4 linked regions of the Homo sapiens genome follow. The protein of the gene in region 4 interacts with the protein of the main gene of each other region in a biochemical or structural test. Each region holds a gene or a part of one and is shown on either strand. Other genes may lie near its edges. The genes, in order: FEZ1, DLC1, PRKCZ and WWC1.

Region 1 (8,251 bases), on a different chromosome or scaffold from region 4:
ACAGAAAAGGCTTTTTCAGGTGCATATTTTATAGCTTGGGCTTAGGTGCCTGTAGAATTGACTTAAGTATCTTTCGCCACAGAGAGCAGGGGCTTTGGGAAAGGCTGCTGGCAGAGTATGAGCAAACCCAGTGGAGGAGGGTGGAGACTGGGGGGTGCCAGGACACGTGTACAAAGAACTCCAGGGCCTGGAACTGGCAACATAGCCATCAGGGTTCTCTCAGTCCTGATGCACACGTAAACCCTTATATACCTATTTCTGACAATATGGCAGGCAGCTTAAAGGGCTTATTAGAATTCTAACTTGCTGACATTTCCCTCAAGCCTGGCTACTTCCCTTGTCTAGTGTTTTGCTGGTGTGCAGTCATGCCAATATCCACACCCAAATGTGTATTAATTTGAGTACACCTTTGCACTTTATGTTTAGAAAGTAGAAATTAGTGGCTGGGCGTGGTGGCTCACGCCTGTAATCCTAGCACTTTGGGAGGCTGAGGCGGGTGGATTGCCTGAGCTCAGGAGTTCGAGACCAGCTTGGACAACATGGTGAAAACCCATGTCTACTAAAAGACAAAAAAAAAAAAAAAATTAGTCCGGCGTGGCAGCGTTTGCCTGTAATCCCAGCTACTCGGGAGGCTGAGGCAGGAGAATTGCTTGAAACAAGGAAGCGGAGCTTGCAGCGAGCCGAGATCATGCCACTGCACTCCAGCCTGGGCAACAGAGTGAGACTCTGTCTCAAAAAGAAAGAAAGTAGAAATTATTAGCAGCACATTAATGCGTTTGCTCAACTTTCTAGATGTCCTCAAATGTTTAAATAGAATCAATACTATATCCGCTTTCTATAACCTCTAAAAAGAGAATTAAATTTTCTAAAAATCACAATTATGTGTAGTTTTCCCTAGCTGACTATTTGGTATTTACTTGTCTTCAACATGTAGTATATCTGATGACAGGCAGTTTATTGTGTGCACTTTATTTTTAACATCACCTATAACAATTCTATCTGAAGAAACAGCCATTGCATGGTTAGCCCCTCTGTCTTCAGGGTACTCGTAAGAGGGCTGATAGGGATCCCCAGTGACGTAGGAGGTAAGCTGAGGGCCGTCAATTTCCATTTTGTAGTGACCCCTAAGAGGCTGTGACCTCCAGGCCCAATCTCTTATGGCAAAGGAAGAGGGTGGTCACATATACACAAAGAAGAGATTCTGGGATATTTCTTGAATGCAAAACCAAAAAATGTGTATTCAAATCTGACTCTCCTTTAATGCCTAGAACTTCCATGCCCTGACAGATCAGAGATAAGTTGACAAATCTTAGCCAACTCCCCTCTTGGCTAAATAGTTCCAAATGAAGACTAAAGAAAGCTTCTAAGGGAATCACTACATTTGCTCTATGATTTGTGCTGTCTTTAAGGAGGCAGTTTAACCAAGTATTTCCCTGCTTTTGTTTTAAGCTTCTATTATTTACCTCTAACCCATCCACAGCACTTTTCACTCATTTGTGGATGAAACAGCCCTCTAAATACTAAACCGGAACAAGTTTATAACAATAACATTAGAGCTATGTTCAGGAGAAGTGTAGTCAGGTGAGATATTAAGTCACCCTTTTCCTTTACTTAGCCATAATTTCACAGTTGAAATATCTGGATAGTGTCTATGAAACAAAGTGTGTAACAGAATTCTGATTTTTATTTTAAATTATAAAGAGGGGTTAGAACTGAATGCCTAGAAAGTGTTGTGTTAATTTTTCTCTTCCCAGCTTCCTCCCGCTACACTGTCCCCAAATTATACCTTATCTCGAAGGAATTATTCAATCTTTGGTCTCTTAACTGAGGCAGTCAATGAGGCAGTCAAGTCAGAAAAATCAGGCTGAGGAGGCCAATAATCCCATGTGATGGTAATTAACATTGAGTGGCCTCTTCTAATGTGCTAGAAGACAGTAAGAATCTGCTCATTGGGCCTTCATCCTTAATGAGGCAGAGGAGGGGTTTTGATAGGGGGGAAATGATTTGTTGGAAGCAAAAGGAATGGGACGCATCTTGAAATGTCATTTTCAGAGCACCTGGGCATCCTGGGTGAGGTAAGAAATTAGGTTCTTTACAAGTCCTTAGCCTCACTTCATCAAGATTGAGCTCTGGAGGTTTCATAGATGAGGACCTACACAGTCAACCAGGGTTAAATGACTTGCCCAAGGTCACACAGCGAGTTAGAGAGAGTACCAAAATTAGAATTCATAGTCTTTGTATTTCTAGTTCATTGGCTGGTGCACTAGAACGAAAAAATATTCGGCATAATAAACCCCCAGAGCCATTCTTTTTTGACTTATAAATGTTGAGCAGATAACAGGCTCAGAATCTAAAAAGAATCTGTTTGAAACTTAAAATTTAAACACATAGCCCACAGCTATAGTACTAGTCAGCAGAATGAAATGTTCTCTGTGATCATACCTTCCGGCCAGCATTAATTAAAAAGAAAAGAAGGAAATGGTGTGGGCTTAGAAATATATTACATGTACATACAAGGCTACTAGCTATTATCACTCATCTAGTTTATTTGATATTCAATATTTCATTCAAAAATATTATTTGCACATTGCACTGTATTAGACAGTGGGGCTGTAAGAGTGAATCAGACAGATATTTGGCCCCTCTATGTGTAAAAGTAGAGTCTTACAGTAGTCATCAAATAAGCAACCCTCTCCCAAATACAGTCAGGTTCCAATCCTCTAGGACGTGCCTCTTACCCCATTATTTGTGGGCCATTCTTCCCACTCAAATCCACAAAAAGGGAAACAAAAGCACAGGTGCTTCAGACTTCCCTGACGTTTGACATTTCTTGTGTGATAGCTAAGAACAATGGATGCATATTGTATCTCTGCAGGGAACTCATGTAGACAGTAGTCCCCCCTTATCTGTGGTTTTGCTTTCCCAGGGCTCGGTTATCTGCTGTACAGTACAATGAAATATTTTGAAAGAGAGAGAGAAAGAGAGACCACATTCACATAATTTTTATTACAATATATTGTTATAATTGCTCTATTTTGCTGTGAGCTGTTGTTAGTCTCTTACTGTGCCTAACTTATAAACTGAACTTTATCATATGTACGTACATACAGGAAAAAACATTAGGGTTTGGTACTAGCAGCGGTTTCAGGCATTAACTGGGGGTCTTAAAACATATCCCCCACCATGGGCCAGGTGTGGTGACTCACGCCTGTAATCCCAGCACTTTGGGAGGCCAAGGCGGGCAAATCACCAGGTCAGGAGTTCGAGACCAGCCTGGCCAACATGGTGAAACTCCCATCTCTACTCAAAATACAAAAATTAGTCGGGCATGGTGGCGCACACCTGTAGTCCCAGCTACTCAGGAGGCTGAGGCAGGAGAATAGCTTGAACCTGGGAGGTGGAGGTTGCAGTGAGCCAAAATTGTGCCATTGCACTCCAGCCTGGGCGATAGAATGAAACTTCATCTCAAAAAAAAACAAAACAAAACAAAACAAAAAAACACATCCCCCGAGGATAGCGGGGAACCACTGAATTTTTACTAAATGCCTAAGACATCCTTCTTTAATTTGTGTAACATATCACCCCCTTCTCTTTCTAGTCCCTCCTGAAAGAGTACTTTTCTCAGATCCCTTTTCTTGACTACTATTAAGACCCTAGAAAGTAGCGAGCAAGTGATACAAGGAATCTGCATACTCAAAGGCCACATCACCTAGTTTCCACCTTTACTTTGTCCAGGGTAGCCCGCTGTGCTCTCAGTTCAGTTTAGATGCTTTCTTATGTGGACATATCCTAACATCTGTAGATAACTCTCCAGGCCTGAGGGGCTGTCAAAAATTCGGGATTTTCAAAATTCTGGTGTTTCTTGAAGCAAATTAGTCCAATAACATAGATTCATCCATCATGGTTAATTAATTTTTTCTGGCCTTTATTTCTAATATCTCGCTGGATTTCCACTGATATAAAGAAAGCTTAAGATAGACAGACCCTGAAATTTACTGTGCTCCTGAAATTCCATTTTGTATCTAGGAAAACCTTCATTCCTCTAAGGTTTCAATTTAAGAAAGTTCTCCTCAGGGGACTGTAAAGGGACATATATAGAGCTATGACAGCAAGTACCAGGGCACTGCTCCGCTGGCAACACGAAAATGAAAGTAATAGCCCATAAACCTATAGACAGAAACCAGCACTATGTCAAGGAGACAAGGACTACAGGGCTCTCGACTGAAGCAGGAGAGGGCAATTAAGACTTCTTACTCCTCGTCCTGAAGGGTCTCCTCCTCCTCTTGGATCTGTAACTGGTTCTTCACGGGAGCTAGGTTCTCGGTCTTGGCGTTGTAGTTCCGAAAGCAGACATTGAGCTTCTCATCAAATTCATTTACGAGGTCCTCCATGGACTTGAAGCTGATTATTTCGGAAGAAAAATTCTCAAGCTCGGAGAGGGAGGGGTCCTCGAGATGGTGGGGAGATGAACCATAGAAACACTGGGGCTTCTCCTCCGGGTCCTCCGAGCAGGAGGGTCGAAGGTCCTCAAACTCTTCATCCAGACTCACCAGTGGGGCCTCCATTCTTGCTCAGCAGGAGAACAACAGCGACTTTCAGGATGAGTTTATCTAAAAGAAATGAACAGCGTAATGTGAGTTTAGACCAGGCTAATCTAAATAATAGAGTTAACTTTAGAGACACACCTGCTTCCAATTCCCTACTCCAAAAAACAAGGCACTGGTTAAGTACGAAGCTCCTGGACAAGATCGTCTAGGTTTGCATTCTGTTCTGTCCTACCAGCTGTGACCTTGGGCAAGTGATTAATTGCTCTGTGCTTCTTATTCTTCTCAAGACAGATATAATACTGAACCCACCTCAAAGGGCTGTTAGAAGACTAAAGGAGTAAACACAGGTGAGTGCTTAAAACAGTACCTGGAAGATAATAAGTGCCAATATTATTGAATACTTTCTGTTGGTGTTTTAGTATTATTATTTTTATTACTATTACTATTACCACAGATCCATATCCTTAACTATGTGATCTGAAAGCTGAAAATTCTCCATGACTTGTTTGGCAGCAAAATGTGACATGATCTAAACTCATCTGGCAACTAAACATGACCAACATGAATATAAAGCTGTTCATGGCTTTAATTTATCCCATTTTGTGTGTTTTGCTGCAGAAATATTAACTTTTTAATTACAAAGATTGCTATCCCAGATCCCACTGGATGAAATGCGGAATGTACACTCTATTACTACTTTCCAAAATCTGAAATAATCTGAATTCCAAATGCCTGGCCCCAGGGGTTTTGGATAAGGGTTTGTATACCTAGATATTACTACCCTTATCAATAAATAGTAGAAACTAATAAAACATTGGCTGGATGTGGTGGCTCATGCTTGTAATCCCAGCACTTTGGGAGGTTGAGGTGGGAGGATCATTTGAGCTCACTCAGGAGTTCAAGACCAGCCTGGGCAACATAGTAAGGTCCCATCTCTATTTTTATTTTTTTAAAAAAACTAATAAAACATCAATAGAGACCTTCCAATAAATGCCTGAGTTGTTTTTGTTTCGTTTCGCTTTTGAGACATAGCTTCACTCTGTGGCCCAGGCTGGAGTGCAGTGGTGTGATCTCAGCTCACTGCAACCTACACCTCTGGGTTCCACCAATCCTCATGCCTTGGCCTCCCAAGTAGCTGCGTGTGCCACCACACCCAGCTAATTTTTGTATTATTAGTAGAGATGGGGTTTCACCATGTTGGCCAGGCTGGTCTCGAACTCCTGACCTCAGGTGATCTACCTGCCTCAGCCTCCCAAAGTTCTGGGATTACAGGCATGAGCCACCGTGCCCAGACAAGCACCCAAGGTTTTCCCACACATAGAGCATATGCCTAGGAGCAGAGGAATAGACTAAATGATCTATTATCCTGTATCCTGTAAGAAACAGACCCAACTACCCATGTGCTCCAAAGCCATACTCCATAACCATCTTGGGCACTGCACCCTGGAACGCTGCACACACAGAACTCCCTTCAGTTCCCACCAACTGTGGGACCTCTACCCCTCATCGGGCCATCTTCATGCACTGCTTCCAACTGTGATTTATCCATCTGTGTGTACATCTGGGCCCCATTCAATTTTAACTTAAATTCCTCGAGGACACAGAAATCCTCTGGATATCTTCCCTGGCTCCAAATATACACTGCCTACCCTGTGGCTAGGCAGTCAATCAATATGTGCTCGTTGAAAAAATGATCTATCTCCCACATACAGTTTTCCATTTTCAGTTTCAGGCAGCACAAGCATTGCTGACTATCATACCCTTCTCTACACGCTCAACAGAAAGGCTACCAAGCTTTTCTCTTCGGTCTATAGGGTTATTGATATAGTTAGGTGCTCAAATTGGAGGCGCTTCCTGAGGGGAACCAGACAGCAAAATTCATGGATTTTGCCCTAGGAGTGCCCATTCTCCATCTCTACCTACAAAACTAAAACTCTAAATAAGCAAGGCAAAGGACATGCCAGGCAAGAACACTGCCAGTTTGTACCGGGATTTTGCTGGGATTAAGTTGATTACCGTTGCTTTAAAACATATTTGGAGCATTTACAGTTTGCAAAGGCAACATGATAGGACCTTTGAATACAAAAATATATACAAGTAGTACCATATCTTGGAAAGAAGACAGGCTCGAGAGCCAACAGATCTGCCAATGGCTGGCTGAGTGACAAGCATCATTGGTCCTGATTTCCTCATTTGTTATAAGGAAGGTGTTGGTACAGAGTTAACATCTTTAGGAGTTATTTTTAATAAATCAATAATTTAATTAATCATTTTGATTGAAGTAATATGTTTATTTAATCCAATATATCCAAAGTGTTACCATTTCAAAATGTAATCCACAAAAAAACTAATGAGGCAGTTTTTATTCTTTTTTTATACTAAGCCCTTTGAAATCCAGTGTATATTTTCCATTTACAGTACATCTCACTTTGGACTAGCCACATTGCAAGTGCTCAACAGTCAAATGTGGCCTGTGGCTACCGCAAGGGACAACACAGCTCTAAAGCAAACACAAGTAATTGCCAGTCAGGGGTTCTTCATCTTCAGTACATAGACCCCTGCAGGCTCTTTGAAGGTAACTATATTTCAATGAAATTGGTTTCCTTTACAAGACTAAGTATTTTATTTTATGCATTTAAAAACATTATTTGGAGAAGGAGCCCACAGGCTTCTCCATACCACCAAAGGAGGTCATAGTGCAAAAAAGATTAAGAATCCCTGAGCAACAAAAAAGTGAGATTAGAAAAGATGGCAGAATGCAGTAGAGAGTAAAACAGTTTTCACAGCCCAGGGATTTGTGTTGATTAAGGCAGTACTCTGTGATGGCTAAGAGCATAGGCTTTGGGTTCCTGTCCTGGTCCTGTCACTCCTAGTTGGGAGACTTTGGGCAAGTTATCAACCTCACTGTGCCTCAATTTCATCATCTATAAAATGGAGTTTAAAACAGTGCTTCCCTTGAAGATTACTTTTTGGACTAAATGAGATCATCTTTGAAGTGTTAAGTACAATGTGCAGAATATAGAAAGCATCCAATAAATATCAATCATTCTAGAAAAATCAAAGCTGGGCACGGTGGCTCACACCTGTAATCCCAGCAACTGGAGAGGCTGAGGCAGGAGGATTGGTTGAGCCCATGAGTTTGAGGCTATAGTGAGCTATGATCACACTACTGTATGCCAGCCTGGGTGACAAAGTGAGACCCTATCTTTAAAAAAAAAAAAAAAAAAGTTAAAAATAATTCTAGGAAAACCAGGATAGCTAACTTACATAGAAATGTGATGTGGGGGCTGGGCACAGTGGCTCATGCCTGTAATCCCAGCACTTTGGGAGGCTGAGGTGCGTGGATCACCTGAGGTCAGGAGTTCAAGACCAGCCTGGCCAACATGGCAAAACCCTGTCTCTACTAAAAATACAAAAAAAAAAAATTAGCTGAGCATGGTGGCAGGTGCCTGTAATCCCAGCTACTTGGGAGGCTGAGGCAGGAGAATCGCTTGAGCCCAAGAGGCAGAGGTTGCAGTGAGCCGAGATCATGCCATTGCACTCCAGCCTGGGCAACAAGAGCGAAACTCCATCTCAAGAAAGAAAGAAAGAAAGAAAGAGAGAAAAGAAAGAAAGAAAGAAAGAAAGAAAGAAAGAAAGAAAGAAAGAAAGAAAGAAAGAAAGAAGGAAAGAAGGAAAGAAGGAAAGAAGGAAAGAAGGAAAGA
Region 2 (8,251 bases), on a different chromosome or scaffold from region 4:
TTCCTAGAGACAGTTTTCTTCATGTTGGTGAGGCTGATCTCAAACTCCTGACCTCAGGTGATCCGCCTGCCTCGGCCTCCCAAACTGTTGGGATCACAGGCGTGAGCCACCGCGCCCGGCCTTCAGAGAACATTAAGAGAAGAAATTTTTCAAAGAAAACAATTTTAGCATGTGTTCCAGAACAAATGATTCAAGTCTTCCGATTGAAGGGAACTCATGAGGATGCAATGGTACCAGAAAGAACAATAGACCACGTAAGAAATGTCGTTGTGAATTTTCAGAACATAGGAGGTAAGCAAATGGTTCTAAATGTAATCGGAGAAAGAGAAAAAGAGATGATATATTAGGAGCTGGGAATCAATGGTATCAGATTTGTCAAAAGTAACAGTGCAGGGAAGACGACAGGCAAATACGACTTCAAAATTTGGATGGGAAATTATGTCTGCCTTAAAATTATATGAAAAGTCTTACTTTTTTTTTAACCTCTTCTCAAAAGCTACTGGAGAGATAGCTAACCCCAAATTAAAAAATAAACACAGTGGGAAAGACATGGCAAAAGGAAGCCAAGAATTCAGCACAAGTGAGGAAGGTATAGAATTTTCAGGATAAAAGTTGTGTAGCAAGTCCAGTGGTCAATCATTTCACATAACTCCTAAAGTTGTCTCTGGGAGATGTCTCTAAAAAAAGGGAAATAATAAATTATATATGACATATTGAGAGGAATTTTATAATAAAGTCAAGCAATTTGGATGGAAGAATTATTAATAGTTATAGAGAACACTAGGGATATCAATTATCAACCACAGGAAAAATAGTTTTACAAGAAGGAAAATATAATTATAGTATACTCCATAAGCTGTGGCTAATTTTTTTCATGTAGTCAAAATAATGCAAATAGTAAACATTAAATTAACCAAAACATATGAAGCAATGATTTTCAGTGCATAGGATTCTGTGAGGAGTGAGATTAGGGAGAGCAGGGAAAATAATTTAAGGGAGATAGTCACTTTCTGTAGCAGGAAGTTAACAGATAATGTTTAAAATAGAAAAAAAAATCATAGTACAATCATATTGTTTAGAAATACAGAGTTAAATATCAGAAGACATAGCTAAAAATAATTTAAAGTATTATGATATTGTGTGCCATTTGCTAAGAAAGTCTTATCTCTGGATTTCAGAATTCATGCTAAAAATAATTTAAATTTTAAAATGTTCTACAGCAGTAATTTTAAGGTTAAGCTGATGCATAAACACGACTGCAGTTCTTCTGCAATATGTCTGGTGGGGCCAAACCATTCTTTTTGCCCCATTCCCCCTCACCACAGCATCCCCTCGCAATTACACAAACACCAGTCTCATGTACGTAGCAAAGAAAAGGTGCCAGTTTGGATATTTATCTTATGTCACCAATGTCAGCACAATTTCTATGAGATTCTTAGGTCAGTTCTTTCAGTTTCCTTTCCTTCCCTAACTCTCCTGGGGAATTCCTGAAATTTGGAACAGGTATTCTTAGGAATTGTCTAAGCCATAGTTTTCCTAAAATGTTATCTGAATAGAAGTTTAAGATACATAAAATAACATATAAATAGCATTACATTAGTACATGCACATAAATGGGGAATTCTCACTCAAATTCCCACTTTTCCTGAATCCCTCACTCACAGTACTTGGAAAGATGGCAACTTTTGTATTCATCCCATCAAATGCAGGTATCTTATTTTGTCCTTTGAGAATACATGTGATACATATATGTGTGTGTGTATATATAAAGCAGTCCTTTGAGAATACATGTGATACATATATGTGTGTGTATACATAAAGCAGTCCTTTGAGAATACATGTGATATATATATGTGTGTATACACACACATATATACACATATGTATACAAATACATGCACACATAAATATGTATATGTAAACACACACATATATATAAATGAACACGCTATTGACTTCTGGGTTGTGAGAGTGTGTGTGTGTGTACACATATATATTGATATAAATAAATGAACACATGATTGACTCTAGGATATTCTATTAAATATCCTGAATATTTAATGGAAGGGAAAATAAAGACATAACAGTACTGCCATTTTACTTTTCTTTTCTTACTTCTTCCTTAGATAGCTAGAATTACTTCTGGTTTCCCTTAGAGTTTTTCATCCTGATTAGCCATCCCATGTTAAATTTCTAGGTCGTGTTCTCCACCTACTGCTTTATACACATACACACACATGGACACACACACACACACACACACATGTGTGTGTGTGTGTATATATATATATATATATATATATATACACATATATATACACACAGAGAGACACATGCACCCAAATATATATGTGTGCATATGTATGTATATAAATATACACACACACTTACATAAAACAGCTATCGCATAGCATGTGCTTAGTCACTGTGGGAAGGAAGAGAAGATGTAAGGGAAATAATCTCATGTTAATTAAACGCAACTTAACAGTTTCTAAAATGCTCTCTCAGCATATGAACGAAGAAGAAGACACCTCTACATTTGGCACATTTTGTTGCTACGTGGTGAGGGTCACCTTAGTAAGATGCATATGTTGGAAACCTGAATATCTGGTAATGATATGAAATCTTACTGTATCTTAGCCTACTCTTGGGGACTCACACTTGTACATCGTATGTGCCCCCAAAACACTTACTGAATTGAATTAGGCAACTAGAAAAGACGATCAACAACCTGGAAACAGACATGATCACAGGAGCACAACTTAATATAGTTCTTCAACTCATGTCAAAGTAAATCTTCATTACAAAGAGCATTTGTGGAAGCCAAAATGAAACCCATTTTCTTAATGATAATGTCAAAGAACAAATTACCTAGCAAACTAAATTGTGTACATTTGGGCGCCTTCCCACTGGCACACAGCTCAGTGATAAATGAAGAGGAATGCTCTTTACGACCAAACTGACTTGACATATGCTTAGAAGCCAGAAAGCCCAGGGAAGATATTATGTTTCTTAATTCCTTTATGTAAATACACAAACAAATAGCAAAAACCGTAAGAGCACATTTCTAAAAAGCATTTCTATGAGTCTAGTCCAGACAGCCAACTTTCAGTAAAAAACAATTAGTGTTTTTCCTTTAAAATATTCATGTTATCTAATCTAAATTAGACAAGACTAGAATTAGACTGTGGGTGGATAAACATTTAATAACATGATGCAAGAATTTACCTCCATATGATTTCATGCAGATTCCCTTTCTTTAGTAGCAATATGTGTCTTAATCCCACACAAAATCATTATTCCTCTACTTTTACATACTTTGTTTAATGCTGGAATGTACTTGTTATACCTCATTACATGTTAGTGGAAAACATGAATCCCTGTTAAAAGTTTTATTGGCAAATTGCTTAATGGAGATTAAAATATTATATATGAAGTAGCTTCCATGTCTTTAGGCTGTCTGGAAAGCATCAAAAACTTTACCAAATTAAAGAATAAGTCATCTATAATGAGCCAAGTAAGGGGAATAAGTAGTGTTTCACTTTTTCCAAAATACACATCCAACGTTCCATCAGGTTTAGTCTTTAGAAGAAAAATGAAGAAATAGGTACCCAGCTGAAAAATATTATTTTATTGTTAACCCATTTTTAGGTATATCTGAGTTTTTACTCAACTTAAAACATTTTTTTTATTCTTAGCCCTCAGTGATTCAGGCAAATTTGAAAGTTAACTCTTTCAATCCACTAGAAGTCAGCTCATGAGAAAAGAGCAGGGTGTTGCAAAACTGCAAGCTATTATTTCAGCGGTGCTCTATTTTTACGTCCAGGTTGCTGCTATTTAATGTCGCTTCCAGTAGTGTCTAATTTTCTTGCAGAGAGGAGAGCAGATACTGGCAGTGTTTGACTTACCACCCACTTTATGGCTCAAGCCAGCCAGATTTGGAGATTCTCTTAACATTTTCTTAAGCAACCCGCATGTAATTTGAGGAAACTGGGAATATTTTATGATATTCTCCTGATATCACTGAGATCTTTCTGGGGATATTGGTTTCTAGGAGATCCCAGAATTAACAGAGCCATGTGGGACAATATTGCTTTATGGATGTAGTAACTTCTTTTTCTTTTTTTTTTTTGAGACGGAGTCTCGCTCTGTCGCCCAGGCTGGAGTGCAGTGGCGCGATCTGGGCTCACTGCAAGCTCTGCCTCCCGAGTTCATGCCATTCCCCTGCTTCAGCCTCCTCAGTAACTGGGACTACAGGTGCCCATCACCAAGCCCGGCTAATTTTTTTGTATTTTTAGTAGAGACAGGGTTTCACTGTGTTAGCCAGGATGGTCTTGATCTCCTGACCTCGTGATCTGCCCACCTCGGCCTCCCAAAGTGCTGGGATTACAGGCGTGAGCCACCACGCCCGGCCAGATGTAGTAATTTCTAAGTATCTATGTTTTATTTGGATCTCCATGTTTTATTTTTTTTTAAGTATGCAATCTTCTTAATAGTACTGTTTGATCCTATGCAGAATAATTTGGGCATTTACAAATACATTGTACCTTAGATTAATTCTGCAAATAAATTCATTAATGAATAATTATCTTCTTTGCCATAATATCTCTTTTCTGTAGAACCTCTTACAATAAAGAGAAGTATTGCCTTTCCTCTGATCTTGTTTCACTTGAAATTTTTCATGTAACAGGAAATAGCCTAGGGTTAAAGTTGATATTAAACGTGTGGCTGACCTTTTTATTATTGATGGCAAAGCAGTATGATTGAAATGTGGTTTGCTGTATTATAAAAAGATATTTTTATTCAACAAGGAACACGGATTATAATGTTTTATCATCATCATGGTGAGATGCGGTTTTGCTTTAAGTGGTCACTTTATTTTTAGCTTTGCTATCATTTCTAAGAACACTCCAACAGTAGACACAGTAATCACTCCGCGTAAATAACAGATATAGCTACATCAACCCAGGTGCTCAGATAGCAAGTTGACAGTAGGGAATTACATTTTTAGTCATTCCATAAGCACAATTTTCACTGAAATCAGGAACAAGATGTCATTAGGAACTTAATTACTTCTGTTAGCTTGGTGTCCTACCTGGGGTCAATGTCTCTGCTATCAACTTTTGTCTTCCATACATCTCTATCATCTCATCTTAATTATGTCATCTACCTATAAATGTTTGAGCTTATTTTTATCACCAAGTGTTTTTCTTAATACCTAAGAAATATTAAGTGCATTAGAAACTTATAATGATAATTATAGTAAAAACATCCTTCAATTAATTAAGCACTTATTATGGGCCAAGTACTGTATTCGGTGTGTTACTTAGAAGCTATCTCCTTTAGCAGTAATACAAATGTTGTATGAAACAAATACCATTATTGCTCTAATTAATTTGATAGGGAAGAATTTTGGCAGGACTGATTAACTAGCTCAGTGTCAAATACATACTGGTGGGCAGGAATTGTCTCCCATTTTTGTGAGGATGTCTGTGAAATAACTTTTTTCCCCCTGGTGATTAGGGTTAGTTACCTAAATTCTATGTACCTCAGTTTTCTCAGTTCTGTAATGGGAATAATGAAAAAACTGTTGAGGGGAAAATGATAATGAGTTAATAACAATGAGATTATAATATATGTAAAACACTTAGTCCATGGCACATTTCAAGCACTCACTAGATGTAAAGTGACTTGATCATGATGATGGTGATGGTGATGGTGATGATGACTCCTTTAGCTTTCAACTGATCTTAGCTGCAGAATCCAGGGCTGAGTATGAGCTGAAACTATCTCTTCTATGTCCATGATATTTCAATATAGATGAGTGATTAGAACAAAATGTGAGTGAAACACAATTATTCTTTATTCTTTTTTTTTTTTTTTTTCCTGAGATGAAGTTTTGCTCTTGTCGCCCAGTCTGGAGTGTGATGGCACAATTTCGGCTCACTGCAACCTTCACCTCCCAGATTCAAGTGATCTCCTGCCTCAGCCTCCTGAGCAGCTGGGATTACAGGTGCCTGCTACCATGCCTGGCTAAAGTTTTTTGTATTTTCAGGAGAGATGGGGTTTCACCATGTTGGTCAGGCTGGTCTCGAATTCTTGACCTCAGGTGATCTGACTGCCTTGGCCTCCCATATTCTTTCTTGATTAATTGACTTATGCCTTTTTAAACAAGGACTTGTTGATTATACTGTATGCAAAACAATTTGCACACATGAAATCTCATCTAATGCCTAACATGACCTGGAAATCCCATACTTTACTAATAAAAAGCAGAAACTCAAAGTAGTTACGGGGCAAACATCAAATCACAGAGCGTCAAGTGGTTAAGAGGAAATCAGAGCCAGTTTTCTAACTTTGTCCATTATTTTTTTCGGTACACCACCCCATTTAAAATGTGGAAAATTCACTAGTGCTCTGTTCTCACTGGCCTCATGTAACTTTTAATTTCAAACCATTTCTGGATGCCTATGCTTCCTTCTGGTGCTTAATGAACTTGAAATGTCATCTAATGAGAGTGTTGTTAACCTCTGGCCCCAGGCTCTGATGACTCTTTCCAACCTCTTATTTTCCTTCCCCTTTAGAAATTATTATTCTATTATTACAGGATGTCTGGAAAATAAGAAAGAAGTCCAACTCCCACACATTACCATTCCTCAACCCTGGTTTTCCTTTCTTTTTTTTTTCCTTCGCTTTTCCTTCCATTCATTTCACAAACATTTATTGACAAATAAGTGTTGATAATTCCTGGCAAGCTAGGTATTTTGCTAATTGCTGGGAATAAAAGAAACACTAATTGAGTATCTAAACCTGCTGTTTGATCTTCCTACTTCTTTTCTATCTCATTTCCATTAACAGGGCTGATTTTCTCTTTGAATTATTTGAATTGCATTGCTAAAACACTTTGTTATTTCAAGCTAATACAGAAACAACCTTTTCACACATGCAATTGTCTTTTCCACCCATTTATCTCAATTAATGAGCAAGTTCATATGCATGCTGTTTACATTATCTTTCACCTTTTTTTTTGGCATTTGAGTCACTGTTTAATCTTTTAAAGTTCATTTATATACTCTAATCCACTGAATCAAAATTAACAATCTTTTTTAACTGGGCCTCAAGGTCCTAGTTTATTCATTATTATTCTGTTTAACTTTCTTAAAAATTAGCCCATTTATTTATCAAAACTCTGTAAACTATCAGTTGAAAGCCAAAACAGAACCATAGAAGTAAACACTGTATTTCTCTATCACACCAAAGTCAATCAAGAGTCATTCTTCTCTGTAACTCTGTTTGGTCTATGTTGTTTATGCAAGGGGCTTATCTTTCGTGTGGGGAAAGCAGGCCCAATATTCACACTACTTCCCTCAAATTTGAAAGTTTTCAGTGTTCCCTTGTCCTCTTCCAATTCTCATGTGCAATTCTTGACATGTCTCTATTTTGATAATAAAATCCCTGATCTAGATCTTGGTCATTTGGAACTTTGCCATACTGTAATAGTTTTTAAAGAGTGATTCTCATTTTATAACACTGACATCACTCATTTTTCAAGAGGAAACAAAAAACAAACAAAAGACAAATTTCAAATGATCAATTTTTGACCTATTTTAAGCCTGTAAGATCTAAAACTCTATGAATAAGATTAAACCATCCCATAAGTATTTGTAGTGAGTTATATGGTATGGGTAGGTATAGACAGAGAGAGAAAAAATTCTTTTTTTTAAATTATAATGTCCTTATGAAGAAAATGAAGTGATGTGCTATCTTTTACTAGGCCTTCTAGGAATCAGGCAGTCAGCTATAAGGGCCACCACTTTACTGCACTTATTTCTCATTCCAATAATGTAGAGTGTGGTGACATTGAAAGGAAGTGTTGAATAGTGTCTCTTTTAAGTAGTAATAACATCAGGAAACTCAATCTGGTCATGAAAATGGAAAAAAAAAGTATCGTGACACATTCTCTCTAAGGAAATGGCAGCTATTAGAAATGGAATGTGTTACATTTATGAGAAAGGGTCTTGTCTGAGAAGGTATACTGCTTCAGCACACACAGCAACAAATATTGTCATATATGAAGTATGATGCAGATGAAATAGCCCACGCTCCCATTTTATACCACGTTGTTCAGACATTTATTTATATACTGTAAAAATTCTGCATTCTACAATTAAATGACTTTGTAGAAGGCTTAGAGCAGACATACAAATCAATTAAGGGATTGCAAACATGCTGGAGAAATGTAAACATATTT
Region 3 (7,736 bases), on a different chromosome or scaffold from region 4:
CCGGGGGGGGGCGGGTGTCCAGGGTCTCGGGCCGGGGGGAATGGGCCGGCAGTATGCCCAGCGCTGGCATTCTTGTCCTGGCACCTGGGGCTTGGGTGTGAATCCACCATGTCGTGCTGAGCGCCAGGCACGGAGTGGCACCCTGAGAAACCTGAGTGTGTAGGGTGGGCCACGCTCACCTGCTGGGGATGACCTTGAGGCAAGGCAAGGCGCGGCACAGACCTCCTAACTTGGGGTTTTACGTCTCTCTTCCCCAAGCCACCAGCCGCACAATGGGGTGGAGCGGCCCCTGAGTCATGGAGGCCTGGGGTCTCTGCGCCTGGCCAAGAGGGCTGCGTGGCAATTTCCACACCTGTGCACCAGGCCTCACTCAGAGGCATGAGGTGGCGCGACCCCCTCTCCCAGGGAGCTCAGAAGACGGCTCTGCCACACCTGACACCTGGCAGCTGGCAGCCCTGCCTCTAGGAAGCCTCAGCTCTGGACAGCTGTGCCTTCACCTGAGGGGTGGGTGGACGGAGAGCGCGGGTGTGTTCCCGGGAGCAGGAGGTCCGCGCCGCTGGGAAGAGTGCCTGTGTTTCTGGGTGTTTGTAGGGTCATCACGTTCAACTTTAAGGCTGGGGTCCGTCACATGCACATCTTTTAGTTTTCCCTAACTCTCAGTGCTGTGTGACAGATAAGAATATCTTCCAAAAATCAAATGCGTCGCACGAGGCATCGTGCAGGCACTGCTTAGTGTGGTCAGAAATGATTTGTGCAGATTTAGTGTTCAGTTTTTTCTCTTTTTTGGTCTACTGTGCTTTGGTGGGCCACGTTTTAGAATCTCTATGATCCAATTTCCCCCATCGGTCCAGTGAGCTGGCTGGCCCAGCTGCCATCTGCTTAAGGTGTCACTTCACCCTAGACCACAGCGGCTGGGACACACTCTGCAGGAAGAACAACAGGAACTTACCGGGGTTTTTAGGAAACAATTCTTGATTGCGGTGTGTCCCCACAGGTACTTCAACTCCCGCCCCCACCTGTGTCCCGCTGGCTCCTAAGCTGCCCCCCTACGTGTGGGTTGCGTCTGAGATGTGGGGCAGGCGCCACTCACGGAAAAAAGGCATCAGAGGAGCTTCCACATCATCGGAACATTTTATTCCTCAGGACGCTACACGCTCACTTTCCTGGCGGAGCAGGTCAGTGCATCGAGTTCTGTTTCCGTGGAAAATGTGCACCTTGGAAACCGCATGACAGCCCCCTCGGCAGGGTCCCCGCGGATCCGCCGCGACGCAGGCACAGCAGCAAGTTCCTCCAGCACGAAGCTGGCCTGCCCGGGCCCAGGTGTGAGGGACTGTTCTGCTCCCAGCAGCGCCCGCTGACGCTTCCCTCTGCGGTCTCGGCGCAAGCGTCTGTCCCTGGCCGCCCTCGGAGCCGTGCCCAGCCTGGCATGCATATGCGGTGGTTAAGGATACAGTTAAAGGGTCAATCACGCGTGTCCACGACAGAGACGCACGCGGCCTCACACCGACTCCTCGGTGGACAGCAATAATGGGTTGATATACTCAAAGCCTTCGAACTCTGACTGGTCGATCCTCTTTATGGCATCCCTGTGGGCAAAGGTGGCAGGGGGGAGGGGGGTGACCGTGTGTTCATTCCCTTGGGGGAAGCGGAGTCACGTTCGCATAAGAATCCTCCCCCAACGCCCACTGGAGAGATGACACCAGGCGGGTGGGACTCAAGGGCAGGCTGGGTCACCAGCTGCCCAAGGTGCCGGCCTGCCATGGGGCTGCCCGAGGGGTGCTCCAGGGACCCGCACCCAGTGGGACTCACTCATCGTCTGGGGTCAGCTGCACGGGCTCGCTGGTGAACTGTGTGTCAAAGTTGTCCAGACCGTAGTCGTCTGTGATCTGTGGCTGGAATGGAGGGAGCGCCTGCTTCTTCTCCAGCTTGGAAAAACAATAGGAGAAGGGTCAGCTCCGCGCGGGCATCATCCCTACCAGATTGAGTGTTTTGCACGCACTTCAATCACAAAATGAAACAGTGAGAAAGTCAGCATTTCAATCTGCCTAGTATTTGACTGCCAAGTGTTTTTTCTTACAACACAAAATCTAGAAAATATCCAAAGTCAGAAAAATTGTTGTCGAGCTGAGAAATGCCAGTGTCGGCCATGCTGGCCACATGTGGGACGGAGCAGGATCCCCAGCCACCCATGCGAGGCCACCCCCTTCCTTGGGGGGGTCCTTGTTCAGAGGGGCACCGACAACTAACTGGCTGAACAAGCCGTCTCATGACGTCTTGGAACCCTGACCATAAAGGTGTAGGACCTGGCCACAGCACCCTGCCTGCGCTGGCACTGCACAGACCCGTCTGTCAGGAGCCTCCTGCCGGCCCATTTCTGCCTATCCAGGCATCGACTTCAGAATCTCAGGTGCTGCTTGGCAGGAAAATGCCCAGCAGGCGGGCCTGGGACTCGGTGATGCGCCTGTGCCGGGGAGGGCAGAACGCTGGTGCCTGGCACAGGTGCCACAACACATACGGGTGAGGACACTGAAAACCCCTCAGTTCCCCCGACTCATGGCCACTTGTCCCAGTGACACAGCCATGCTCTCCCACTCACCCACAATAGGGTCTGAATGTGCCCCCCAGATTCACAGTGAGAAACTCATTCCCCAGAGCAACAGTGTAGAGAGGTGGAACCTGATGGGAGCCCCGCCCTCACAGACAAACTCCTGTAGCTGTCAAGACAGCTTGGGCATGGATTCCTCTCTGCCTTCTGCCATGTGGACACGTGGCCTTCCTCCCCTCTCTCCTCCGGGGAATGCAGTGTTTGGGCGCCATCTTGGAAGCAGAGATCAGGCCTCACCAGACACCAAGCCTGCTGGCACCATGACCCTGGACTCCCAACCTCCACAGCTGGGAAAGAACTCTGCTCCCTAGAAATTACCCAGGCTCGCTCAGGTATTCTGTTACAGCAGCACCAAGAGACATTCACTCGCTTACTCCCTCACTCTCTAACCCACTCCCATTCACCCTCTCACTCCCTCTCTAACCCACTCCCATTCACCCTCTCACTCCCTCGCTAACCCACTCCCATTCACTCATTCACTCACTCACTCTCTAGCCCACTTTTTTTTTGAGATGGAGTCTTGCTCTGTTGCCCAGGCTGGAGTGCAGTGGCGCGATCTCGGCTCACTGCAACCTCTGACTCCGATTCAAGCTATTCTCCTGCCTCAGTCTCCTGAGTAGCCGGGACTACAGGCATGCACCACCATGCCCAGCTAATTTTGTTTTTTGTTTTTGTTTTGAGACTCGCTCTGTCTCCCAGGCTGAAGTGCAGTGGCACGATCTCGGCTCACTGCAAGCTCCACCTCCCAGGTTCACACCATTCTCCCGCCTCAGCCTTCTGAGTAGCTGGGAGTACAGGCGCCCGCCACCACGCCTGGCTAATTTTGTTTTTGTATTTTTAGTAGAGGCAGGGTTTCACCATGTTGACCAGGCTGCTCCCGAACTGCTGACCTCAGATCATCTGCCCTCCTCGGCCTCCCAAAGTGCTGGGATTACAGGCGTGAGCCACCGCGCCCGGCCCTCTTTAGCCCACTCATTCACTCACTCCCTCGCTCTCTAACCCACTCCTGCTCACTCACTCATTCACTGGCTCACTCACTCTCTAACCCACTCTCTCTCATTCCCTTGCTCGTTCTCTAGCCCACCCTCGCACACTCATTCACTGGCCCGCCCCTTAGGTGTGTGCTCCTGTACCAACACTGAAATCCAGCTGTCACAACAGGCACCCACTGACTCCAGCCTCATGGAACCACCATTCACCAGGCTTGAGGGGAGGATGTCACGGCGCGCTGCTCCCTTCGGTGCCAGCCAGGATGGGGCCGGGTGGGTGCAGCTGGTGAAAAGAAATGCAGCCCCCCAGCCCCTGCAGACCAAGCCGAACAGCCCAGCTCGCGGGTGGATCACAGGGCACCCAGCAGCCGCCTTCCCTCCGGAAGAGCCAAGAAGGCTTCCAAGACCAGAAATGCCCCCAGTGTGGCTGTGCCTGTCCCCGGTGCCCCGCCAGCTGGGGGGCAGCATACCCAAACAGATGCACCCTGCCCATGATGGCACCCCAGGGACCCCCATCCTCAGGACCCTCCAGTCGTTCAAGCTGGAATTGGCAGGTTTCTGCCTGTATAGGCATCGGCTTCAGAGTCTCAGGTGCTGCTTGGCAGGAAAATGCAGGGCAGGAGGGGCTGGGCCTCAGCTCGAGGCTCCCAGGTGCAGCCCCCCACTCCACTGCAGGGCCCAGGGGGGCCAAGAACAGCCACAACAACAACAAAAGCCAAACTGGGAACGGAATCGTGGAAAAAACCCTCATAGGCTTTTGGGAACTTACAAAGAAATGCCCACATCCATTCTACTAACATGGCATCTACTAACGTGGCATCTACTAGGATGCCACAAAACAGACAAATCCTTCCACGTAAGGCTGGACACGTGTCAGGGCGGTGTCTCAAAGCTGGGCCACAGGCAGCATCCACGGCCAGGCCACTGGGTGGAGGAGACGGTGCTGGGGAGGAGCCGGAGGGAGGGGCCGGGGCTGTTCCCTTAGGCAGAACGGCTCACCTGTGGTGTGCGCACAGCAGGATTGTGGGGACACAAGATGCCCCCTTCATTCATCAGTTACTTGTATTCTTTGTATGAAACACCTGCCGATAAAATGTGAAAAAGGGGCATTTCCTAAAGTACTTTCCCTACCTTAGTCCTGTGCTGCTTTACAAGGGTTTAATAAGCAGCAGGGGTGGGAACAGAGCAGGACCCAGCTGGAGCTGGCCCAGGGTCCTCCAGCCCCTGGCCCAGCCCGTTCTCTGCTCCGAGGGCTCAAGATTGCCTCAGTTTCCCTGACAGCATCCCCAGGGGCCAGCGTTACCTCCTCCTCTTGCTCAAAAGCCTTCAGTGCCCATCTCTGCAGCTGGCACGTGGGCTCCAGGTCGGGACCCATGGTGCCTGACACCTTTTCCCACCGCCGCCCCCTGCGCCCAACCCATGGACGTCCTGGCCTCTCAGAGCAGTGCGTTTGAATGCACGCTGGCCCCAGGTCGGACGCTGTGGCAGTAACAGGTGTTGCCCCTGTGGCTGCAACCACAGCAGTGACCTGAGATACAACAGGGGGCCCGTTCCGTGTCAATGGGGCTGGGGGCCCAAGGGCTCTAGTTCTGAAGGGACATCTGAGAAATAGCCTGGGGGAGGTGAGGGCTGGAGCCTGGGGAGGGCACAGCTGTGCAAAGGCCCCATAGTGGGTGTGTGCCTTGTGCGCTGGGGGCCACAGAGGGGCCCCATGAGACCCGAGTGAAGGGGCTGAGGGGGAGGAGGCTTTTGGACACAGGACGACCCTGCTGTCCGTAGGGCCAGGCAGGATGCTGGTGGCTTGGTGGAGGTGGCGGGGGTGGGGTGGGGAGAAGCAGCAGGGCTGGGGGGCTGGGCTAGGCCCCGCATGGCAGAGCATGGTCAGGCACAGAATGGACGAGCCCCACGTGCTGGGCAGGGCCTGGAGGCGTCCAAGGGGACAGCACGCCAGGGTCCACTTTGGCCATACTAGCCGGCCACATGGAAACATCCTGGAGCCAGTTCTTGGCAATGATGAGAGGAGGTCCCTGAGACCACCCTGCACTGTTGGGGTGATGACGGTGAGCCCTGCCACCGGATGCAGGGCTGGGCCCAGGAGGTAGTGCCCTGGGGGCAGCATGGGACTCCCAGGCTCCTGGTGCCCAAACCACAGGAAACGCCCAGAGAGCCCTGGGGTGGCAGCACAGCAGCGGTCATCTGAGCATCCCAGTCATCTGTGCGTTTGAGTCATCTGTGGATCTGAGTCGTCCGTGCATCCATGTCATCTGGGTGTCCGTGCATCTGAGTCGTCTGGGGATCTGAGTCATCCGTGCGTCCACGTCGTCCGTGCGTCCAGGTCATCTGTGCGTCCACGTCGTCCATGCATCCACGTCGTCCGTGCGTCCACGTCATCTGTGCGTCCACGTCATCTGTGCGTCCGCGTCGTCTGTGCGTCCGCGTCGTCTGGGTGTCCGTGCATCTGAGTCATCTGTGGATGAGTCATCCGTGTGTCTACGTCGTCCGTGCATCCACATCGTCTGTGCGTCCATGTCGTCTGTGCGTCCACATCGTCTGGGTGTCCACGTCGTCCGGGCGTCTGTGCATCTGAGTTGTCTGTGCATCTGCAGTCAGTCCCCATGCATTTTCATAAACAGGTTGGCCTTAAAGCCCCACCGAGGATCCACCCACTCAAGGCTCCAGCTAGAGGCCCCACGCCTGCCCTGTGCCACGCAGCATGGGGTGGACAGAGGGGTTCGCGGGTGGCCAGGCCAGGGCACTGCTGCCTTCTACACACTCCAGGCTTGAGAATTTTACGGCCACACAGGTTGGCCCTGGGTAGTGGAGCTGGCACCAGCCCAGCTGTGGGGCTTGTCCCTCTCCATGAGGTCACAGCTGTGATCCCCACTTCTGACGGCCTCCACTGCTCCACGTCTCCCATAACCGCCTCCCTCCTGCTCCCACCCGCTGCCCAGACCCAGCCATCTCTCTGTGGGCCTCTTGTCACCTGCCCTCCTCTGCGTCTTTCCGTTTTCCCCTCCCTGCCGCCGGCTCCTTGCGCAGCACACAACGTGGCTGGGTTCCTCCCACCGAGCTCCCAGGAACGTGCCTGTCGCACGTGGGAAAGTCCTGAGGCTCCCACCACACGAAGCATTAGAGTCCTTGCTCCTCCCTGGGGCCTCCCACCAGCAGCCCTGGGCCCGGGGTGGGAGGAGCAAACCACTCCTGGCCCTGAGGCAGAATCTCCCCAGCAACATGGGCAGCAAATGACTCTCAAGAGAATCGGCTGTCACCACGCAAACGTTTCCATCCAGGGGGAGATGAGTTAGCGCAGCACCGCCCGGCCATGTGGGACACGTGGGGTTGGGCAGCAGGTGGTGGCTCAGCTGTTAACTCACCACCACCTTTCACATCAGTGGGGAGCTGGGACCATGCTGGGAAATCCATCGCTTCAAATCTCAGACTCCTGATAGTCACTAGCACAGATCACGTGATCCACAAATACTCAGGCTTTGCAGTGTGCCAAGTACCGGGGATCCTGCGGGGATGGGGACCCTCTTAGAGTGGCAGCCCCAGCCACCAGGCCAGGACGTGCTGTCTGGACCCAGTTCCTTCAGAATGAGCCTGTCCATCACTCAAAGCTCACCCGGGACAGGCCCAGCAACTTCCCCACGGCCTTTGCTCCCACAGCCAAACCGGAGGACTCAGGATTAGGAGCCTGAGGATGTGCCTGGACCGGCGGAGGGTGGGGTCTAGACACGGCCCATGGGAGCCCCCGACAAGATGAGCGCCACCTCCCAGTGCAGGGGCAAGGCAGGTGGATCTGCCTGGCTGACGGGGCCCTCTGCACACACACTGCCTCTCTTCTCCAGGGCAGTGTGCAGAGGCCAGGCTCCAGGAGGAAAGCAGTGTTGGGGACCCGGTGCCGGGCCCCAGAGTCACACCCCAGTGGCGGCGACTGCCTGAGTGGTGCTGGTTCAGCTGGGGATAGGCAAGGAGGGGGCGGCTTTGGGGTGACTGTGACCCTGTCCCAGCTCTACCCTCGGACACTCGGGGGGCGGGCACTGTGTCCTTTCACCATCCATTCCTGCTGCTCCCACTGCCTTCCCCGCAGTCCGTGAAAGAGACCCTGAGTCCACAGGTGGGGACCAAGGCCTCACACGTGC
Region 4 (8,251 bases):
AGCCTCCCAAGTAGCTGGGATTACAGACTCACACCACTATGCCCAGCTTGGACTCCTCTCTTAAGGGGCCTTCCCTTTCTCTAGTGCTTGCTCCTTAGCCATATACCTTTTTCGTAGCTACCACAGAACTAGCACTCCCCCAAACCTGAAGCATCTCTAACCCCAGGAAAAGTTATGCTGTCTGTGCCTTGGGCAGCCAAGAGGAAGGTGGGGTCATGCCCTCTTGGGGCTCCTCCCACACACTGTGGGGGCCAAAACCTAAGCCTCTCCACAGGCCTAGGCTCTGGATATTCAGAGTTCATGGCTTACAGGGCCACAGAGAGAGCCAGCACCCAGACACCTACCTCTGCACGGAAGCCTCGTACACACCACTGTCTCCAGCCACTGACTCGTCCGATACGGCGGCTGAGACACAGGCCACTTTCAGGCCACACCCCTGGGCCGTATTCACAGCTAGGGAAGGAAAATGGAAAGGCAGGTTCAGGAACCAGGAAACTGCCTTTGCGACTCCCAATTTTGTTTTGTTTTTGAGGCAGGGTCTCACTCATCCAGGCTGGAGTGCAGTGGCACAATCATGGCTCACTGCAGCCTCGACCACTTCGGGTTCTGGTGATCCTCCCACCTCCGCCTCCCAAATACTGGAACTACAGGCATGTGCCACCATACCCAGCTAATTTTTGAATTATTATTTTGTTGTAGAGATGGGGTTTTGCCATATTGCCCAGGCTGGTCTTGAACTCCTGGTCTTAGGCGATCTGCCTGCTTTGGCCTTCCAAAGTGTTGGGATTACAGGCGTCAGCGACTGTAATCCCAACACTTTGGGATTCGGGGAGCCTGAACTCCCAATTTTGATACACTCTCTATGGAAGACAGACGGTTCCACCAAATTCCAACCACCTCTAAATGCTAAAGCAAAAAAAAAAAAAAAAAAAAAAAATTAAAAAAAAGTTTGCTTTAGGGTGATGGAAGGAGTCACATGTGATTTTGTGTTTTACCATCCCAGGCTCTTGAGTCGAACTGCCTGGATTCAAATCCGGCTCCACCACTCACTGCTTCATGACCTTGAGATACTGACTTAATCCTGTTAAGCCTCAGATGCCTCATTTGTAAAACTTGGATAATAATACCTACTTATAGGGCTGTTGACAGGACTCAGCGAGACATTATAAGGGAAGTCCTTAATATAGAGATTGGTGCAGGCAGGCAAAGTGCTCTGCAAAACTCATTACAACTATCCTTATTGCCACTACTGTTCCTATCACTGTAGATATCCATACTTTCAATGGCAAAAACTGCAATTACTTTTGCATCAACCTAACAGATCCATCCCTACCCACCTGGGGCAAAATAACAGCCCCTGGACCCTCAGGACAGAGAAGGGAGAGATTAAGCACCCGTTCTTCCACTGCCTATCCCTTTCCACTCCGAATTCAGCTCCTCCTCTTCCCTAACCTTAACAGGGGCCCTTGAAAGTCTCTGATCTGAGGCTCATAACTAAGCACTCAACACGTGCTGCACATTCCTTCCTTGCCCAAGTAATGATCACTCACGATGTGCCAGGCCCATTGCCATGTTCAGAACTACAAAGATGAATAAGACAATTCCTGCCCTCCTTGCAGCGGGGAAGGCCAGATCCAGATCTTACAACCTCACAGCTAACACCTCTGAGCACCTGCGGGCAGACCGGAGCAGGGCAAGGGCTCGCAGCATTGAGGGGCACAGAGTCCAGGGCATGGCAGGCCGGGGACGGCGATGGGTGACAAGGCGGGTCTGGGAGACTGCAAGTGCTGGTGATGGGGAAGCTGAGCCTGCGTCCCATGCCTGCTGAGCCCGCGGAGACCTCCTGCTTTCAGACCCACGCATCTCCACCCTCCACTAAACCACTTAAGGAGATTAATTTGTCTGCTGACTGAACAGCGGCACTAATCACATAACCTGCTTAGCGTCTAAGCTCTGCCTGGCATTGCTTGCTGCAGGGAAGGCTTCTGGAGATGGCATGAAGGAAATGCCATCCCGAGACCTGTGTGTGCCCAGCCTAATGTGCTGTCTGAGGCCCACAAGCCCCAAAGACACTGTTAGGGAGGGGAGAGGAGGGGGTCACTTCACAGGACATAGCTGGGGTCTGAGTGTCCTGACTTGGCTTAATATTGATATCAGAGGCATGCTCTTTGAGCCTTGTTAGAGGTTCCACCTGCACCCCCTCCTCTCCAGGGAACAATTTTCTGAGGCTTGCCACCTGCTATAGTAGGGCGCTTGCTTTTATTTTGAGAGCACTCAGCAAGACTCCCTTCCTGATGAGGGAAACCCAGGGATCTCTCGGCTCCTCTTCTAAGGAAACCACTGGCACTCAAAGCCTTTCGTTAACAAGGAAACCTCATTTCCCTACCATGCTCCCACTGGCCCTTGTACACACATGGATAATTCTGGGCACAGCAGCACCACTCCTGCCCATGCCTGGAGCCACAGAGCTGACATGGGTCTGGCTGCTTCTAGCTGGCCTCACCTGGAGCCAGGAGCACCAGCTTTTTGTAGACAGAACTCAGCACATGGATAACAGTGTGCGTTCTGAGCAGGTGGTCCTTGTGCCAGTCCTGGTCTTGCCATTTCACTCTGTGGGACTAACCTCAGACAAGTCTTTTAACCTCACTGTGCCTCACTTTTTTCATCTTTAAGATGGGGATAAAAGGGGCTGGACTTGGTGGTTCACGCCTGTAATCCCAGCACTTTGGGAGGCCAAGGTGGGTGGATCAACTGAGGTCAGGAGTTCGAGACCAGCCTGGCCAACATGGTGAAAGCCCGCCTCTACTAAAAATACAAAAAAAAAAAATTAGCCAGGCATGGTGATGTGCACCTGTAATTCCAGCTACTCGGGAGGCTGACGCAGGAGAATCGCTTGAACCCAGGAGGTGGAGGTTGCAGTGAGCCAGATGGTGCCACTGCACTCCAGCCTGGGTGACAGAGTGAGACTCCATCTCAAAAAAAAAAAAAAAAGGAGATTAAAAATAGCACCCACTTCCCAGAGGTGTTGTAAGGCTTAAATGAGTAAATATGCAGAGAAGTACCTAAATCCTAAACACCTGTACGCTATATATCATAGCTATGATTATTGTGAGCTATTTTTACTGTGGCCAGGAAAGCCAAGAAGGCCCAGGTGAGTTTACTGAGCATCCTACTCAGTCCTGACCTTCACACCCAGAGCCAGATGGGGTTGGTGGGGCCCCAAGCACCAGGAGTTGGCATGAATGTGCATGCTGAACTGCCTCCCAGCCTAAGGCATGACAATAAGGGGGTTGGGTTCCGGGGCCAGAAACACTCAGGTTCCTATCCCTGCTTCCTCACTTGTTGGCTGGGTGACCTAAGGCAAGTGACATCACCTCTCTGAATCTCCAATTCCTCACCAGTGAAATGGACAGAATAGAAATAACTGATTTCACCATGTATCAAGCACATTACCCAACTCATAATATATCCCCAATAAAAGTTAACTATTATGATTTATTATGTGGTTGCTGCTAAAGATAAAAAGGTTTTCTCCTAATAAATCTTAGCTGTCAATGTCAGCATCATCTTCTATTTTGAAGATTCCAACTTAAATTCCGGCCAACACCAAAATGTTCTTTCTGACCCCATGCAGAATGGGAGTCAGATCATATCATTCCTGGCTTCAAACGGTCACATGGGTCCCCAGTGCAATTAGGATAAAATCCAAACTCCTTAGCACAGCCCACCAGGCCTTTCAGGATCTGGACTCTTGCCTAGTTCTCCAGCCTCACTGGTAACCCCCTACCTCTGACTCATGGCTTCCTGGCTCCCCTTCTAGTCCCTTGCTCTGACCTCAGAGATTTTGCTCTTGCTTTTCCCAAGGCTGGCTCCATCTCACCATTCAAGACACCCTCAAATGTCATCTTCTTTCACAACCCAACCTGCCCTGGCAGTCCCACCTCTAACCAGAAAGGCTGGATCACATTCCCTGTTTTATTTTCTTTGTAGTGCTTGTTTGGTTGCAGGTTTATTCCCTGTGCCTCCATTTGAACATAAGCTTCATGAGAACAGGGACCCTGTCTGTCTTCAACACAGAATCCTTAGTGACCAACCCAGTGCCTGGCACCCAGCATATCTATAATCATGAATAGATGAATCCATGTATATCCATTAGCACAGGATGACCTGACATTTAGTTTTATGAGGTGCTAAATGTCTGTTGGAGGACAGAATCTACTACTGAAAACCCTTCACACAGGACCTCAAAAATACTGAGTTAATAAACATCCACTGAATAAATATACTTGCCATACAAAGACCCAGCACACAGAAGCAGTCAGTAAATATCGACTAGAATGATCACTGGGGGGTTCTGAGCACAGAGTATCTCTTTCCCTCCTCCTGGTTCCCACCCTCTGGGTATGGTGCTCTCTACCTTGGCCCAGCTGCTTGCCCTCCGTTCCTGGTTCCTCCAGCCGGTATCTTTCCTGGGCGCTGTTACCAAGGCTCAGTTCACAAAGAGTGGCACTCAGCTCCGGGTCTTCAAACTCCAAGGAGTTGAGGAAGGCATCACCAGCCAGGAGGGGGTCAGCCATGAGAGGGGAACAGGGTGGGGAGGGGGAGGAGAGAGAGGAACGTGGGGATAGGGAGGTCATGGACTTTGGGGTGCCAGACAGGGAACGCAGAGCCTGCAGGCGGCCACCTCCCTCTGCCTTCTGGGTCTTGGCCACCTCATCCTCGTGGATGGTGGTGATGCAGCCTGAGGGCCGGAAGCCGGTGGCCCCCTCCAGGAGCAGGAACTCCACCTTGCTCTGCAGCTCTGAGTCCAGCTGCTCAAAGGGGTCATAGTAGAGGTCAGTGAAGCTGGCTGAAGTGGAGGAGTCCAGGCTGGATGCAACCAGGGAGCCCCGGCTGGACGTGAGGGATCCGGGGCTGCTGCCTGAGGACAGGGACTGCATGCTGCTTGAGAGACTGGGACACAGGGAGGGGAAGGACAGTGAGATGCACACAGTGAAGTGGGCCCCCTGAGACCTTCTGCTGAGCTCTGGAAAGCACCATGATCTCACTAGACTTGCTTGGCAATCTCTAGGGTAGACCCTTCACCCCCACTTCATGGAAAACTGATACCCCAAGAAGGCCACATAATCAAGACATGGCAGAGCTGGGCTTTGGACTCAAGTTATAGCTGCCTTAAAAGTCCACTTTTTCCTCTAAATCTGTGTTTCCCAAAGCTCCAATTGGCTACGTTGCATTTGTATGATATGTTTTCATAGTTGAATCCATTATGTAATAAAGATTTCTTAATATCTTTCTTGAAATCAACTCACTGTGTTTTTTTTTTTTTTTTTTTTTTTGGGGGGGGATGGAGTCTTGCTCTGTCGCCAGGCTGGAGTGCAGTGGGGCGATCTCGGCTCACTGCAACCTCCGCCTCCTGGGTTTAAGCAATTCTCCTGCCTCAGCCTCCCAAGTGGCTGGGACTACAGGCACCTGCCACCACGCCCGGTTAATTTTTTGTATTTTAGTAGAGAGGGGGTTTCACCGTGTTGCCCAGGCTAGTCTCGAACTCCTGAGCTCAGGCAATCCGCCTGCGTCGGCCTCCCAAAGTGGTAGGATTACAGGCGTAAGCCACCACGCCTGCCCCAACTCACTGTTTTAATACTTTAAAACATCTATATTAAAAGGAAACTTTACATCCTAAGTGTAATTTGAAAAGCAGTATCACTTACTACAAAGAGAAGACCACCATTAGAAAAAAATCTAATGGAACAAAATGTTATTGAATTCCACTGATGCACTGTTGTTCATGGAGGCCCAGGTCTGAGGCTACATTCTCTGTGTTGTGCAGGTAGGTGGCAGTGTGAGTTTCCTAAGGCTTTTTTTTTCTTTTTGGAGACAAGGTCTGGCTCTATCACCCAGGCTGGAGTGCAGTAGCACAATCTCGGCTCACGGTAAGCCTCCTCCCGGGCTCAAGTCATCCTCCCACCTCAGCCTCCTGAGTAGCTGGGACCACAGGCATGCACCACCACACCCAGCTAATTTTGTATTTTTAGTTTCGCCATGTTGCTCAGGCTGGCTTCAAACTCCTGAGCTGAAGCGATCCACCCACCTTGGCCTCCCAAAGTGCTGGGATTACAGGTGTGAGCCATGACACCCAGCCGAGTCTCTTAAGACTACCTATTACCTGCCTGGGGCCTTCTTTGTGCTATCAGTCTGGAGAGGTCAAGACCCCTATTCCTAGCTACACCAGGCCACGCCCGAGTCTGCTGACAATCCATTTGCTATGCTTCTAAACATCCACTCTCAAGCCACGGAGGACAAGTGAAGGGTAGAGCCTGGGCTGGGACACTGGGGACACCCATGTCTGGCCATGCCCAGGGGAGCAGTGGCCTCACCGCCCACCACTCACCTTTTCAGCTGGGAGTGCAGAGTTGCCACCTGCCGGGTGGCTTCCTCCAGTTCTCTCACAAGCTGGTTCCTCTTACTGTTTAACTTTAACCTGGAAGGAGAGAAAGCATGCGAGGGATGCACCAAAAGGAAGCACAGGCATGCACTCTTACCCATGTACACCCAGACCCACAGGCACAAGAACTTTCCGTAAAGCATTTGACCACGGCATCTGGGGAGCTAGAGCTTCCACATATATTATAATCCTATGATAACTGCAATATCACTCACCCACTATATATATATATCAGGCACTCTGCTGGGAACCTTAGGACACTGCCTTAATTCAGTCACACAATAATGCTGCATAGTAAGAATGATTTTTACCACTTTACATAAGAGGAAATCGAGGCCCTTAGAGTTGTATAATTTACCTAAAGCTGTGGAATTAGTGGCAGAATTAGGATTTCACCCAACCATACCCTCCTTCTCTTCCTTCCTCCATCTTTCAGCTCATATTTACTGAATGCCCGTTTTGTACTGGACCCTGCCTGTGGCACTGGGGATAAAGTAGTGAGTGAGCACAGTAGGACTTGTTTCTGTTCTTATAGGGCTTACATTCTACTGGGGAGAACCGATATTAAAGAAATACTCAAATATCTAATTAACACAGTGTGTGACAAGGTCCATGAAGAAAAAGTACAAATGGTAGAAAAGAACACAAAAGGAGAGGCCCAATTTGAACTGGCAGGTGAGCCTCTTCCAGTCAAGTGACTCTGTGGCTGAGACTGGTGGTGTGTACCCTGCCTCCACCATTTTCCCAGCCTTCCCTGTGGCCGGGTGGGCAGGGCGTATGACCAAGTTCTGGCCAATGGGATGTGAGCACTAGTAGTTAAGAAAAGTGTGTGTGTCTTCTTTACTGTCTGTTGCATGGACTCTTGTGGACTCAAAGGGGAGGCGTCACAGATGGAAAGAGCCTGAGTTCCTGAATGACCACATGGAAGGCTGCCTGTTAACTGGACATACCCAATTAGACATTATATGAACAAAAAATAAACCCGTTGTATGAAGCCACGGAGACTTTGGGGGCTGTTTCTTGCAGCAGTTAGATTCCTGACTAGTAGAGAAATTTAAGGATGGATAATGGACAGCAGTTGGCTAGGAAAAGTGCAGGAGGGAAGAACATTCCAAGCAGGGGCTTTAGCAAAGACCTTATCATCTTGAGGTCACCATGACTGTGGGGAGGACAATGGGCAGGAGGCTGAAGACTGAAGGCGGGGAGGGTGGCTGTGAGGTGTAACCGAGATGGTGGAGGCTTGAGCAATGCAGAGACAGAGACAGTGCCTGGGCTGCAGGAGCAGCTGAGGCTGAGGGAGTAAATGTGGAAGACTGTGCGGTTACTGCTACGGGCAGCCAAGTGGCCCTGCAGATGGCATCTGCTAAGAGGAAAAGGCTGAGGCAGAGGATCCCGGGGGAAGAGAAGAGCTCTATTATGGATATGTGGGTATGAATACTGAACAGGTGGGCTGCTCTAAAGGTCGGGGCGGGGGGGTCCCTATCAGATGGATCACCACCTGAATGAGATTACCATCTGTTCTGGCTTGATTTTTGTCCCCCGAAATCCTACATCGAAGTCCTAAGCAGCAGTACCTCCAAATGTGATTATATTTGGAGATAGGGCTTTTAAGAAGTAATTAAGGTAAAATGAGGTCAGTAGGGCAGACTCTAATCCAGTATGACTGGTGTCCTTCTAAGAGGAGATTAGGGCACAGGCACGGGGGAAGACCATGTGAAACGGAGGGAGGAGGAGGCCACCTACAAGCCAAGGGAAGAGACCTCAGAAGAAAGCAACCCCACTGACATCTGATCTTGGACTTTTAGCTTC

The links.
Region 1: the proteins of WWC1 (region 4) and FEZ1 form a complex in vitro, tested with the Homo sapiens proteins (one study listed by BioGRID).
Region 2: the proteins of WWC1 (region 4) and DLC1 form a complex in vitro, tested with the Homo sapiens proteins (one study listed by BioGRID).
Region 3: the proteins of WWC1 (region 4) and PRKCZ form a complex in vitro, tested with the Homo sapiens proteins (one study listed by BioGRID).

Annotation. Positions count from the first base shown.
Region 1 is NC_000011.10:125,485,213-125,493,463, forward strand, and holds part of FEZ1 (fasciculation and elongation protein zeta-1), read right to left. Parts: intron 4,611-8,251; 5' UTR 4,566-4,610; coding exon 4,255-4,565; coding exon of another isoform or gene 4,251-4,254; exon of another isoform or gene 2,987-4,250; intron 1-2,986. UniProt on the Homo sapiens protein: May be involved in axonal outgrowth as component of the network of molecules that regulate cellular morphology and axon guidance machinery.
Region 2 is NC_000008.11:13,504,304-13,512,554, forward strand, and holds part of DLC1 (rho GTPase-activating protein 7), read right to left. Parts: intron 1-8,251. UniProt on the Homo sapiens protein: Functions as a GTPase-activating protein for the small GTPases RHOA, RHOB, RHOC and CDC42, terminating their downstream signaling.
Region 3 is NC_000001.11:2,178,772-2,186,507, reverse strand, and holds the end of PRKCZ (protein kinase C zeta type), read right to left. Parts: intron 6,195-7,736; coding exon of another isoform or gene 5,982-6,194; exon of another isoform or gene 3,767-5,981; intron 2,938-3,766; exon of another isoform or gene 2,633-2,937; intron 2,032-2,632; exon of another isoform or gene 1,926-2,031; coding exon 1,810-1,925; exon of another isoform or gene 1,587-1,809; coding exon 1,499-1,586; 3' UTR 1,231-1,498; downstream 1-1,230. UniProt on the Homo sapiens protein: Calcium- and diacylglycerol-independent serine/threonine-protein kinase that functions in phosphatidylinositol 3-kinase (PI3K) pathway and mitogen-activated protein (MAP) kinase cascade, and is involved in NF-kappa-B activation, mitogenic signaling, cell proliferation, cell polarity, inflammatory response and maintenance of long-term potentiation (LTP).
Region 4 is NC_000005.10:168,420,235-168,428,485, reverse strand, and holds part of WWC1 (protein KIBRA), read right to left. Parts: intron 6,479-8,251; coding exon 6,389-6,478; intron 4,954-6,388; coding exon 4,418-4,953; intron 454-4,417; coding exon 345-453; intron 1-344. UniProt on the Homo sapiens protein: Regulator of the Hippo signaling pathway, also known as the Salvador-Warts-Hippo (SWH) pathway.